2 separate regions of the Homo sapiens genome follow, and region 2 is linked to region 1. A link means that fine-mapping ties the variant in region 1 to the expression of a gene that starts in the linked region. Tissue or cell type: whole blood. Region 1 holds a variant in brackets; the other region holds the start of a gene. All regions are shown on one strand. Distances are from middle to middle.

Region 1 (2,683 bases):
CCTGGGTGTTTGTGTCCTCTCAAAATTCCTACGTTGAAATTCTAACCCTTGGTGTGATTGGAGGTGGGGGGCCTTTGGGAGGTAAGTGGGTCACAGGCAGAGTCCTTATGATGGGACCAGTGACCTTATAAAAGAGACCCCAGAACGCTCTCTAGCCCTGTTCATATCATGCGAGGACATGAGAAGGTGTCAGCTGCAACCTGGAAGAAGGCCCACACCAGAACCTGACCGTGCTGACAGGTGACTCTTGGACTTCTCTCCTCCAAAATTGTGAGAAATAAATTTGTTTGTAAGCCACCCAGTCTATGGTACTTTGCTGCAGCATAAGACAGGGGTCCCTCTGTGAGGCTCAGTGGCCAACCCTTCTTAAAACTGCTGCCTCCAGGCAGACACACGGGAGTGGTTGTCGGGAGTCCCATTTATGATACAGTAGTAAGAGAGAGGAAAAATACAAATTGACATGGTGAGGAAATAAAAAGGAAAAGCAAAGACCAAGAAGCACCTAGAGGGGCGTGGGGAAAGGCGAGTCAAGGGGTGTGTGGAGAGGAGTGAGAAAAATACAAGGGTAAAAGATTTGTATTCCATAAATAGGAAATAATGCAGAGAGAGCCAGAGCCGTGGAAGGACACAGGAAGACAGAAAGCTTGGAACGGACTCTATTGTAGAGGAACAGAATTAATGCAAAGATATAGAAGGCTGAGAAATAAAACACTTTAAAATATGACAAGGGAAGAGAAGAAACAGTAAAATAAAGGATATTTTAAAAGTATTAAAGCACAAATATTATAAAATACACAGATAGGAAATATAACTGTAAGTGGACTGAGACAGAGTAGGAATAAAATGGAAAAGAGGACAGATGAGAAAGAGGCAAACATAAGGAAACTGAAGCAAATTGCCGAATGAGTGAATGAATGAATTTGAAATAGAGGAACAGAGGCCAGGCACAGTGGCTCATGCCCGTAATCCCAGCACTTGGGGAGGCCGAGGCGGGTGGATCACCAGGTCAGGAGTTTGAGACCAGCTTGGCCAACATAGTGAAACCCTGTCTCTACTAAAAATACAACAAATTAGCTGGGCGTGGTGGCGGGTGCCTGTAATCCCAGCTACTTGGGAGGCTGAGGCAGGAGAATTGCTTGAAGCTGGGAGGTGGAGGTTGCAGTGAGCTGAGATTGCGCTACTGCACT[C/G]CAGCCTGGGCGACAGTGCGAGACTCCATCTCAACAACAACAACAAAAAAAATAGAGGAACAGGAAGGTGTGTTGGGGGGTGGTGGTGGCGGGGTGCTACCAGAAAAGCGGCAGAGAAAGACACATTGCAACAATAGATGAAGACAAATCTAAATGTCACAAGAGTTAAGAGATGTAAAATTTGAGAGATGTGAAATGGTAACTGCGTAATAGTCTAAGCAAAAGATAAGATGCAGGTGAGAGAATGGTCCGGACATTGTCTAGGAGAAAGTAGATTAAAGCAGGCAGCTGGGGAAACCTGAGAAGAGGGATCCATAAGGAGTTGGGCAGCCTGAGAGTAGGACAGAGAGGGAGGGACGACACAGCATGGGAAGTAAAGGGGGCGTAGCAAGGGGAGAAGTAACAGCACACCTTTCATGGCGCCTTCTGCAGGCAAGGCACCCGTCTAAACAATTTACAGGGGCTCATCTATTTAATCCTCACAACGGCTAGATGAGGTAAGTCCTATTACTGGCCACCTTGCCAGGGTGCTCCGTGTTCTCTTAGATTCTGAATTTGTCTGGCATCCATCACAGGGCCAGTTGTATTCTCTGTATATTTTTAATTTTCTGTATTCTTGATGCTCTGGCATTTGTGATCTTGCTGACTGGGGAGAGACTCTCCTTCCCAGGCCTAGCCAGATAGCAAAGGAGAGTGCCTTTTATGCAAACGAACCAAGCTACAGCCCACACCCACAATCATCTCCTTTACCAAACTCTCACACAGCAAGTTAATATTCCTCCTGCCCTAAATCAACCCAGGGCCAGGTACCAGACAACTGGAGACGGCCCCTATGCCTCAAAGCCAGCCAGAACCATTTAAACTAGCCCATTCTAAAAGGCTTACCCTGTTCTGCCCTCTTCGTTTCTTACAGAAAACACAATAAAGGCTCAGGCCTATGCTGCCCCGCCCCTTCTGCCTCCTGACTGCCCTTGGTGCTCTCCATGTGGCCCTGCGTGGGGAGCCAGGCCTCTTGTTTATAGGGATCTGTGAGTATAAACTTCTTCCTTCATGACAATCATTGCTGTGTCTGCACGCTTTGCCACACCTGATTAAAACCAATCCCAGGCACCAGTTTTAGAACACATAGGTGGGAGCCAACACATACAGAGGTTAGGTGACTTGCCCACAGTGACACCCCTGGGAAATGGCACCGGGTTTGAACCCCAGCAGTCAGCCCCAGAGCCAGTGCTCTTAGCTGTTATGCTCTAATGGCTCAAAGAGAAGAGGGAATTGGGAAAACTTGGAATGATTAGGAGAAGAATGAAAGTGGATATATTTTTAGCCTTGAGTTTAAAATGCTAAACAACTGAATAAAACATGGTCCTGTAGTCCCAGCCACTCAGGAGGCTGAAGCATGAGAATTGCTTGAGCCCAGGAGGTGGAGGCTGCACTCCAGCCTGGCAACAGAATAAGACCCTGTCTCAAAAAAAAAAAAAAAAAATACAAAATGTGTT
Region 2 (2,683 bases), 350 kb after region 1:
AAGGTTTGGGGACCACTGAACTACAGTATAGATCAGACTCTACTGTTACAAGTACAGATGATGTATTAGTTCTGAATACTACTGGGAGAAAGATTCTAAAAAGCAGTCACAGAAAAGGTGGTAAGACAATTTATGTGGACCTTGATTTCAAGACTTTCACAAATGAGGAGGGAGAGAAGATAACTTCAAGTTTGGAGAGCAAATGAGCATAGGGTGTACAGTGATAATGTAAGATGGTAGATGGTCCCATGTGACTAAATTGTAGGGAGACCCTACATGGAAAGCTGCTGATGATTATGGTGGGTGATAGGACTGAGTCTTGTCAGTCAGCCTTGATATTACACGTAAGAGTTTGGATTTACAAAAAAAAAAAAAAAGAAAAAAGAAAAAGACATCTAGGCATTGGGGTCCCTTTAAAGATCAGGTGGAATGTTTTCCTGATGTTCAGGATTCTTCCTGCCTGCCTCCCTCCTTGCAGAAGAAAAGATAGGTAGGTATAAGTAGTAGGTAGGTAAAGGTATGTATAAGCAGGTATAATTCAAAAGGTATATGAAGTACAGCGAAGTCATTGTGTTAGATAAAAGCAGAAACTACAAAACTGTAAGGTTTTGCTTATTTTGTCACGCTCTGCTTCTGTTTTTGGTGTTCTGTGGCTCTTTTCGCCGATCCTTTGTCTCAGCCTCATTTGTAAGTGACTTGTTTTTTCCATTTCTCATTTTTTTTTCCATCTATTAAAGTGAGGGGATTGGATCCTAGATCAGTTCAACTGGTGTAAGCCTTTAGAGCCAGGCATGGTGGCTCATGCCTGTAATCCCAGCACTTTGGGAGGCCAAGATGGGTGGATCACTTGAGGCCAGGAGTTTGAGACCAGTCTGGCCAACATGATGAAACCTCGTCTCTACTGAAGATACAAAAATTAGCCAGGCATGGTGGTGTGCATGCCTGCAATCGCAGCTACTCAGGAGGCTGAGTTAGGAGAATCACTTGAACCCAGGAGGCGGAGGTTGTAGTGAGCTGAGATCATGCCACTGCATTCTCCAGCCTGGGCAACAGGCCAAGACCCTGTCTCAAAAAAAAAAAAAATGCCTTTAGAATGTGGTTAGAAATAATTTTTGGATTGGTATAGATTAACTCTGAATGTTTTCCTGTGTTAGAGGAAGGAAGTGGGATAAATGTAAAGTTTAAAAAAAATGCTCCTTTTTCAAAATTTTGAGGGGTTAGGTATTAAGAATCTTTTAAAGTTTTACTCATTTAAAAAATTTAGATAAAATGGAAGATTCATTCTTAAGGTTGGTGATATCAGAAATGTAAGTGCTGTGTCATTGTCATTTCTTATTTTGGCCTACATAACCGTAACCAGACTTCAGACATCATGCTGCCTGTATCACATGGCTAACAGTGGGAGGTATCTGGTGTGTTCTTCCTGGAGAAATAGATTGAAATTCATTTGGACAGAAATGTTGAAGGCAGGTGCCTGATCCAAAATGCATTTAGTCAGGACTGAACACAAGCTGCCTGGATAGTTCCTGTAAGTAAGCAAGGTAGCCTTTTAACTTTGTGATGCAAGGTTTTATGTATGTGAGTATGTGTGTGCAAGTGTATACAGTATTTTTATATCCAGAGAACAGGGCTCCCTTAAATGGGGGGTGGGGGGGACTCTGGTAACTACATGAAAGTAAAATATAACTTCTTTAAACCTATATCAGTGTGTTCTTTCATGTAGGAATGTAGCTGTGTGATGGCCTCAGCTATTCTAGTAATCAAGGGCTCTCTGCTGTTGCTAATCCTATGATGAACAGGACAAATGGTGGTTACGAACAGAACCCTGTCAAGCCTGGAAATTCCATCAGTTTGTAATAGCACAGCTGTTGTCCTTGAACTGTGTAGGGAGGAACCTAGGGGTGGACAGTTAATATATTCTTCAGGGGGGTTGTAGTTTATTGCTCAGGATAGTCAAGATCTTCCTCAGTTGTCTGTTGCTATCTGCAAGTCTGGTTTGGAGGAGAAGCAGGAGAAATTCAGATTTGTCTGAGGAATCATATGTGTCTGTGAACTGTGTAAGTTGGTAGTTGATTCCTGTAGACATCCTTGCTAAAGATTTATTTTTAAGTAAAATATCATTTTGCTTGAAAGTATAAATCAAGGTTTTGTGGTTAAATAAATTAAAAACAGCACAGCTGCCAGACAAAGTTCAGCTTGATGTATAACAGGCCTCTGAAAGAAGTTCAGTAAGAAACAAATCTGGGTAATAAAGTTAATTAGTAACTAAAAACCTGCTAGGCATACTAAAAAAAAATCTGATGTTGAATATTAAATTATTATGAAGCAGGCTATACCTGTATCCATCAAGATTATAAATGATCTCCCACACTGGCGACGTGGGGTTCCTTTCAAGCCTGAGGAATGAGCACTATATTTTGGCCACAGCATTCTCACTAATGTCCTAGGATAGCAGCTTAGTGTTGGCTTTAGAATTCTCTGTCATTTAAATGTCATGCAAAAACAAACGTATAAAAGAAAACATTAACCCAGATATCTTTATGGTTCCTTGTCTTGTCCATAACCGCCCCCGCCCCCACCCACCCAAAAAGGACAGGCTATCAGTTATAGAGAAAATATAAGTGAGCATTATAAGCAGTATCCTACCTTTAGTAATAATTATTTAAAGTTTATTAAATGGGTT

What was found. PIP is the estimated chance that this variant, and not a neighbour inherited with it, causes the effect.
Region 2: MAP4 starts here. The variant in region 1 is fine-mapped to the expression of MAP4 in whole blood (TOPMed, PIP above 0.99).

The regions. Positions count from the first base shown.
Region 1 is chr3:48,369,369-48,372,051 of GRCh38, reverse strand. No RefSeq gene overlaps it. Among named protein-coding and RNA genes, the nearest start is that of FBXW12, 1.5 kb to the left of the region's middle. The variant C/G (reference allele first, on the strand shown) is at 1,188.
Region 2 is chr3:48,015,179-48,017,861 of GRCh38, reverse strand. MAP4 (microtubule associated protein 4) reads left to right here and starts at 1,446. Exons shown (of 21, transcript NM_001385682.1): 1 at 1,446-1,528.